Linked DNA regions of Homo sapiens: region 1 is linked to region 2. The links come from fine-mapping of genetic effects on gene expression. A gene starts in region 2. The other region holds a variant in brackets. All regions are shown on one strand. Distances are between the middles of the regions.

The links. PIP is the estimated chance that this variant, and not a neighbour inherited with it, causes the effect.
Region 1: its variant is fine-mapped to the expression of MYO7B-AS1 in skeletal muscle (GTEx, PIP 0.92).

The regions. Positions count from the first base shown.
Region 1 is chr2:127,182,121-127,186,503 of GRCh38, forward strand. It overlaps CYP27C1 (cytochrome P450 family 27 subfamily C member 1), which reads right to left. Exons shown (of 9, transcript NM_001367502.1): 9 at 1,712-4,383. Among named protein-coding and RNA genes, the nearest start is that of CYP27C1, 36 kb to the right of the region's middle. RefSeq lists an enhancer at 845-1,401. The variant A/T (reference allele first, on the strand shown) is at 2,229.
Region 2 is chr2:127,628,791-127,633,173 of GRCh38, forward strand. It overlaps MYO7B-AS1 (MYO7B antisense RNA 1), which reads right to left and starts at 1,994. Exons shown (of 3, transcript XR_923314.3): 1 at 1,585-1,994; 2 at 647-769. MYO7B (myosin VIIB) reads left to right here. Exons shown (of 48, transcript NM_001393586.1): 35 at 855-1,036; 36 at 1,988-2,118; 37 at 2,416-2,573; 38 at 2,810-2,963; 39 at 3,456-3,611. RefSeq lists silencers at 4,027-4,116, 4,217-4,266.

The sequences.
Region 1 (4,383 bases), 450 kb before region 2:
GCACCCAGCCCTGCTGGCATCCAGCCTCCACCGCCCTGAGCTGAGGGAGGAGAGATGCTCAGCTTTAAGCAAAGTTTTCTTTACACAGGACTGCATGTTTTCATTATTAAATGAGAGTGTGGCAGTGGCTAAAAGTCACTGGAGAACTTTTTCTTTCCAGGAAGTGACCTAAGATGTATTGAGCCTGGGTGCAGTGGCTCGCACATGTAATCCCAGCACTTTGGGAGGCAGAGGTGGGCGGACCACATGAAATCAGGAGTTTGAGACCAGCCTGGCCAATGTGGTAAAACCCTGTCTCTACTAAAAATACAAAAATTAGCTGGGCTTGGTGGCACACACCTTTAATTCCAGCTATGCGGGGAGGCTAAGGCAGGAGAATCACTGGAACCTGGGAGGCAGAGGCTGCAGTGAGCCAAGATGGTGCCACTGTGCTCCATCCCGGGCCACAGAACGAGACTCTGTCTCAAAAAAAAAAAAAAAAAAAAAAAGTATTCTGAATAGCCCAAGTCTTCATCGGAGGTGGAGGAGGGAGGGGCTAGAAATGACACACAGGTGTGCAGGGACCCCAAGGGAAAGAGGACACACGGGAGAGAGGACGTGCGGCCCAGCAACTGGCGATGCTGGCCAGTGGACTCCTGTGGCTGCCAGCTCAGCAGCCCTCCTGCTTTTGTCAGAGCACCTGTCCATCACAGGCCAAGCCCCTCAGGAGAGCCACAGAAACATGAGCCAGGAGCTGGGGAGGCCCCAGATCCTGAGCTAAGATTCCTGGATGGCCCTGGCTGATGCTTGGCTGGTCTGCTGGTCCTTCCATTTGACAAATGCCCAGTGTCCCTCTGATAAGTTCCTTTTTACTTTCACCTAAATGGCTCTGCTGTCTCTGTGCTGGTCCCCCACCTTCCTGATGGGTGTGCTTGCCTCTGCCGGGAAGGGGCTGTGGAGCCGCCTCACGCTGGCATTTGCTTGTGCTGGGCCCTTGGCTCGCTCATGAACCCCGGCCAGCTTCCCAGACCTGACCAGCAGGTGAGCCCTTTCATTTGCCCAGCACATTCTTAAAATTGGAGGTTGAAAACCTTCAGGCAGGGAGTGCCCCCATGGGCCCCACCACCCCCTGCTGTCATACCCTGTGGTCTGACCCATTTAAGCCCCTGCTGGGACCACTTCTCCTTTTCTTCCTGCTATCTGACTTGTCTGTCTTTCCTTCTCAGCTGCAAAGGCTACCTGGGCCCCAACAGGTCCCCTAAACCCTAGCACAACCATTGTACTATTGCAGTGTGTTAAGTCAATCATTTCTAACCAACCCCCCTTTTTTTTAAGAGATGGGGGTCTCACTTTGTCACCCAGGCTGGAGTACTATGGTGTGATCACGGCTCTCTGCAGCCTCAACCTCCTGGGCTCAAGAGACCCTCCCACTTCAGCCTTCTCAGTAGCTAGCACTACAGGCATGCATCACACCTGGCTAATTTTTAAAATTTTTTTGTAGAAAGAGACTCACCTTGTTTGCCCAGGCTGCTCTCAAACTCCTAACCTCCAATGATCCTCCCACTTCCACCTCCCCAAGTGCTGGGATTACAGGTATGAGCCACCACGCCCGGCCTCTAACACTATTGAAAGGGAAGGTAGAGCTCTCCGCAGAGCCTAATTTACAATCAGTTGTGCTGGTAAAAGCAAATAGTAATGGAAAATGAATGAATGATGAGATTATTGATCAGTCTTTTGTTTCTGAAGGCATCTTTTATTACGGAAATGTTCACACGTACACAAAGTAGAGAGCATAATGTCATGAGCCCCCACTCACCACCCTGCTTCCACAGTTAACAACATCTGCCTAATCTTGGGTCATCTCTTCCTCCCGCAGCCTCCCCACCTTCCCACACACACAATACCCACCTCCTGCAGCAAGCTGGGTTATTTTAAAGCAAATCCAAGATGCCATAACATTTCAGCCATAAACATTTATATCTTTAAGAGCTATCTCCAAGAGATAAAGTCTCTTTTTTTAAAACATAACTACCATTATCACAACAAAAAAATTAACAGTAATTCCCAAATATCATCAAATACACACAGTCAGCATTCAAATTTCCCCGAGTTGCTCTCTTTTTTTCATGCATTGGAAGAATTAATATTTTTGGCTTTTATTTTATTTTTAAAAATTATCTCTTAAATGTCTTTTTACAAGTGGTTTATTTGAATCTGATTCAAACGAAGTCCAGCATTGTACTTGGTTA[A/T]TATGTCTCCTATATTGCTTCATCTGTAACAGTTCTCCTCTCCCCTTGGTTTTTTTTTTGCTTTTTGGTTTTTGTTTTTTTTAGATACGGAGTTTCGTTCTTGTTGCCCAGGTGGAGTGCAGTGGCGTGATCTCAGCTCACTGCAAACTGCCTCCCAGGTTCAAGCAATTCTCCTGCCTCAGCCTCCCAAGTAGCTGGAATTACAGAAGCCCGCCACCATGCCTGGATAATTTCTGTATTTTTAGTAGAGATGGGGTTTCACCATGTTGGCCAGGCTGGTCTGGAACCCCTGACCTCAGGTTATCCGCCCGCCTTGGCCTCCCAAAGTGCTGGGATTACAGGCATGAGCCACCTCGCCTGGCCCCTCCTCTTGTTTTTTGCCTGTCACGTATTTGTTTTGTTGGAAACCCGAGACATTGGTCCTATAGACCTCACTCTATTCTGGATTTTGCTGACTGCATCCCCATGGAGTTTGTTTGTGTGTTTGTTTGTTATGAAGTCTTGCTCTGTCACCCAGGCTGGAGTGTAATGGCGGATCACAGCTCACTGCAGCCTCAACCTCCCAGACTTAAGCAATCCTCCAGCCTCAGCCTCCCAAATAGCTAGGACTACAGGCATGCACCACCACACTCAGCTAAGTTTTTTGATTTTTAGTAGACAGGATCTCACTGTGTTGCCCAAGCTTGTCTCAAACTCCTGGCCTCAAGCAATCCTCCTGCCTCAACCTCCCCAGAGTGCTGAAATTACAGGTGTGAGCCACCACGCCCAGCCCCCATGGAGTTTTGACATCTCCCTGTATACCACATATTTCCTATAAACCAGTAGCGAACCTAGAAACTTGTCCAGCTGAATCTCCATTTCTTTGGCGTGGATGCTTCCTGGGTGGCGCCCTGCACTTCCTGCTACATCACACCAGGAGGCCCCCGTGTCTGGCTGCTTCCCTTCCTGTTCAGTGAGACTCAGCAGCGGGCACAGGTGCTACCCCCAGCCCGCACTTTGCTATTCACCCTGTGCTGATCCCCAGGCAGAGCCACACTTCACGAGAGGGTCACACTGTATGTATACCCAGGGAATAAGAGGTCACTTCAAGTCGCTTAGTTATTCTCAATATTTTTAAATTTCAGTCTCAAACAGAATGCAATTTCATCTAGTTTATAAAACTTAATATACGTATACTGCTACCTCAAAGTAATCAATCCAACACTTGGCCAGTTAATATGACCTAATTTCACATTTACCTGTACATTTACAGCATTCATACTAGAGTTATTCTGCTACCACACAGAGATTTCAACTTTATTATATACTTTAACAAAAATGGTATGTGAAATGGATATTATGTCTATTTACTTAAGGGTTATTTTGCAGAGTGACTTACTAAATGGAAAAAAAACTGTATGGTCTATATTAGTAAGAAAGTAATTTTTGGAGAAGGATTATGTAAAAGGAATTACAGAATTGGGAATAAGCTGTTTCAGGCATGATGACAAGGCAAGAGCATCAGGAAATCACGGTGTTTCCTCTTAGCAACCGGTGAGCAGCAGGAAAGGCAACAGAACTCCTCAGGACCCAGCACTCCCGGAGCCACGGCTTCCCAGAGAGCCTGGCACAGGCACACAACTGGGTGAGGGTTCTTGTGTGGATATTTAAAACAACACCATCAAGATAAAAATATTGTTGTATCTGTAGCATCTCTATTTATGTATTTATTTTCCCTTGAAATAAAAATGTTCTAAAGTTACATTGTTTTCCATGCTGCCTGTTTTATTACTTCTCACAACTTAGGCAACAAAATTTTACGTCATCATATTTCCAGTTCTTATACGTCTGCTCTACTCTGTATTTAGATTTGGTTAGAAAATCTGATTATTCTTGATTTCACCAGGAGCTTTCTTTTTTATTTATTTATTATTTATTTATTATTTATTTCTTCCAAATAAAAACTAATAGTCAACTTCATTAGGCATTATGACTAGAAAATTAAGCACTCGTTGTGGAGAGAAAAGTATTCTTATACAGCCATTTTATTTTATTTTATTTTATTTTATTTTATTTTATTTTATTTTTGAGAAAGGGTCTCACTCTGTCACCCAGGCTGAAGTGCAGTGGTGCCATCATAGATAGCTCACTGCAGACCCAACCTCCTGAGCTCAAA
Region 2 (4,383 bases):
ACTGCTGCAGAAGCACTGAGAAAGGCCAGCCCCCAGCCCAGGGAAGTTTTGAACACCATCCCCACAGCGCACTGCTGCAAAAGCACCCCATTATCCCATTTTACAGACGTGAGGCCAGAGGCCCAGAGATGGAAGTAGCTCACCCAGGGTCACACAGCTCAAGGGGGTGGGAGCCTAGTTCTTGGCCACAGCTCTCCCACAAGCCAGCACTCCATCGAGAGCTGGGCTGTGTCTGTGGGCTATGGGGGAGCATGGCAAAGCCCCAGGACCCCCGCTGGGCCAGCCTGCTGGCCGGGTGGTCATGGGCGGTGGGTGGTGTGGTTAGTGCAGGGACTTCAGAAGGGGGTGCTGGTTGGGATGTAGCAGAAGAGGCTGTGTGTGGGGTCTTTGGGCAGTGAGAAATGTCAGCCGAGATGTGCTGCCCTATCGCCCCATTCAGTCCTCACGGCCACCGCAGGAGGGAAAGAGGATTGCCATCTCCAAATTCCAGATAAGGAAGGGGTCTAGAGAGGCAGGCAGCACTCAGGCCAGGCGTGGGGACTGCCAGCCTGTGCATCCTCCCCTCCCTCATCCCTGGCTCCTGGTCAGCCCTCCGAGGGTCTCCCAGGGCTAGGGCTGCAGTCAGAGCTCTCGAGCCCCCACCCACCCTGGGCTCTGTGCCTGTGCAGCTGCAGCAGGTGACAGCCGTCTGAGGCCCCTGAGGTTCCAGTCCCACCATCGCTCACTCTTGGAGTGGTCTTCTGCCCACCACTCTATGCCTCGGTTTCATCTGTCAAAGGAGATGACCCACAAAATTCCAGCACAGCCTCTGGCCCCTGCAGAGCCCTCAGCAAATAGCCTCCCTGCCCTTACAGATGACACCACCCTCCTGGCCTTCAAGAAGGGGGACCTGTTGGTCCTCACAAAGAAGCAGGGGCTGCTGGCCTCTGAGAACTGGACCCTCGGCCAGAACGACAGGACAGGCAAGACGGGGCTGGTGCCCATGGCCTGCCTCTACACCATCCCCACGGTCACTAAGCCCTCGGCACAGCTGCTGGTAACTGGCACGCTCCCCTGTCCTCAGCCTGGGTACCCGAGGTCAGGGTGGAGCAGTCCTGGGATGCCTAGTTGGGAGGCCTAGCTCAGGGCCTGCAGCCCACCTAGCAGAGGCCAGGAGGGCCACCCGGGCAGCCCCCACCATTCCTGCGGCAAGGTGTGTGTGCAGTGCCAGCCCAGCTCTTGGTACTTAGTAGGTCCTCAATAAATGGGTGTTCCCTCCCTCTTCCATCATGGGGGTGTCCGGGGGACAAACCCAATCTTTCTCTGCCTCATTTACACTCTGACCCAGGGGGACTCAAGTCTCTCCCTGCACAAGGGAACCACCCACCCCAGCCCCCAAGACCAGCCTCTCCGGAGGCAGGAATGGCAGGCATTGCAACATGTACATACTGAGTGCTGAGTATGTGCCCTGTGCCTGTGGTACGAGTCTGGGCATAATAGCAGCTCCACCCTCAGGGCAGACATTTGGGCAGATAATGACACATGGATGGCAACTGTGCAAAGTGCCACCAAGGAGAGGAACAAATAATAGGGTGGGGAACTTACCCTGTCTGGGAAGGCATCCCCGAGGGAGGGACATTTGTGCTGAGGCCTGAAGTTGGTGGCAGACTAGGCAGGCAGGGCTGGGGTGAGAGGTGGCCCCATGGAGAAGGGGAGCTGGGGAGCTGGGGGTCTGAGAAACCCAGAGTGCCGTGGCCCCCAGAACGGGTGATGTGGGTGCCACAGCCATTGGCACTCACCCTCCCAAGGGAAAGGAGACAGGCACCAAGAGGTAGAGTCATGGTCCTGGGTCACACGGCAGGTGACAGGGGTGTGGGTAAGCCCTGGCCTGTTCAGCCCTGGGCCTGACCCCTCCCAAGTCACTGAGGCTGCCAGGCCGGGAGGAGCCTGCAGGAAGGGCCTCATGGGCGGTGGCTCCTGGGCACCCACAGGCCTGTGCCCCCTTCAGAGCTTGCTTGCCATGTCACCAGAGAAGAGGAAGCTGGCGGCTCAGGAGGGGCAGTTCACAGAGCCACGTCCTGAGGAGCCACCCAAGGAAAAGCTGCACACCCTGGAGGAGTTCTCCTATGAGTTCTTCAGGTGCCCCCCAGCCCCGCTCCGCCTCATTGCACCCCCACCTCCCAGCCCCACCTCACCTCATTGCACCCCCTGCTCCCAGCCCCGCTCCACCTCATTGCACCCACTGAGAGCTGCAGAGAGGCCACGCCACCCATGTGGAGCCTGCCTGGCCTTCCCAGGCCAGGGGAGTCAGGAGGGGCTTGCGGCAGGGTGGGGTGCTCTGGCCCTCCCACAGCCACTCAGGGGTGTCAGAGGACAGAGAAGCGTGGGACAGAGAAGGCCACAGGGCAGGCCTCACACCAGCCTCTAACCTCACAGGGCTCCAGAGAAGGACATGGTGAGCATGGCCGTGCTGCCCCTGGCCCGTGCCCGTGGCCACCTGTGGGCCTATTCCTGCGAGCCGCTGCGACAGCCGCTGCTCAAGCGAGTCCACGCCAACGTCGACCTCTGGGACATCGCCTGCCAGATCTTTGTCGATATCCTTCCCCACCAGCCTGCCTGCACCTCGTCAATGCCAGGGCAGAGGCACCCAGCACATCCTGGCCCTACAGCTGTGCTCTAGGGCAGGAGAGCCCAGGAGATCTGAGAAACCTGGAGTGGCGGGACAGAGCCCACACATGGCTCACCGCAGGGCCGGGGTCGGGGTCAGCGTCTATCCCCAGTCTGTGTCAGCGTGGGGCTGCCCCAGCACTGTGCTCCTTGACAGCCACACCCATCCTCCGGTACATGGGCGACTACCCTTCTCGGCAGGCCTGGCCCACCCTGGAGCTCACCGACCAGATCTTCACACTGGCCCTGCAGCACCCGGCCCTCCAGGACGAGGTCTACTGCCAGATCCTGAAGCAGCTGACGCACAACTCCAACAGGTCTGCTGGGGCGGCGGCCAGCCCACGCGGGCACCCTCAGTCCTCATCCCGGCCCCTGAGGCCAGACCGAGGCTCAGAGAGGACACCGCAGCTGGTGGCGGCAGAACCCCTGCCTGGGCTCCTGCCTCAGCAGTGGGAAGGGTTGGGCCCTTGGTCTGCTCTGCTGATGTCCTAGGGGTGGTCAGAGCAGGAGAGGATGGCCCTGCCCACTCCCACCCTCTGTGTGTGACCTGGCAGGCCATGACCTCTCTGAGCTTCAGTGTCGTCTTCCACAAAATGGGTGCAATGCCCACCCGCCCCCATCTTGAGGGTGTGAAAGCCCGTGGCATCGGGCAGCCTGGCACAGCTGGCATGGTGCAGCCTGGCAGGTGCCCTCCCCCTCGGGCCCTCTAGACCCCAGGCAGCTCTCACATCCGTCCCTGCTCCCCAAGGTGCCTGCCTGGCCAGGGCCCCCTGAGGGGCCTTTCCCGGCTGACAAGTGCTACCCTTCAGGCACAGCGAAGAGCGGGGCTGGCAGCTGCTGTGGCTGTGCACGGGCCTCTTCCCGCCCAGCAAGGGGCTGCTGCCCCATGCCCAGAAGTTTATAGACACTCGGAGGGGGAAGCTGCTGGCCCCCGACTGCAGCCGCCGAATCCAGAAGGTCCTGAGGTGAGCCCAGTGCCTCCAGCCCCCAGCATTGGCCCTGGGCCCGCAGACCTGGGATGCTGTGGGGCCTGGCCAGCCTTCCAGGAGCTCATGGTCCTGGGAGGACTCTCCAGAAGCCAGTGTCAGCTTGGCAGGCAGGATTGGGCCCCGAGCTGCCAGAGAAGAGGGTGGAGGGTGAGGCCCAGGAGGGTCAAGAGAAGGCTCAGTCATAGCCACCAGCTCCCCTGCCCCACCACTGCCCAGCAGTGGCACAGAGGCACTGCCTGAGGGATAGAGAGAAACCTGGATGCCCCAGCCCAGGCCCTCAAGGCTGAGGTCAGAGGCCCATCCTTCCAAGTCCATGCGGCCTCCCTCATCCGCCCACAGCCGTGAAGCTCTTCCTTGGCCGTCTTTGCTCTCCCCCACCCCTCCTGCCTCCTCTGGCTTGGCCTCCTGTGGCCGTGAGGAGGGCAGGTTGACTGTAGGAGTGGCCATAATTTCAGTGGCAGCCGTGGTCACAGAGAGAGGTGGGCGCCCCATAGAGGCCCTGCCAGAGTCCCTGGCCCCTGCCCGATGCCCCTGTTGTGCGAGAATAAGAATACTGCCAGCCTTTCCTGCCGGCGCCTTCCCGGGAGCCCCTGGCCTGGCCCTTCCCCGTGTGTGCCCCAGGCTTTCAGGCACAGCTGCACCATCACTACCTCTGAGGCCGCGTGGAGCCAGGGGCAGCCCCCAGGACATGCGAGGGGCTGGAACCACCCCAGTGATGGTCACTGGGGTTTTCTTTTGTTTCTGGCAC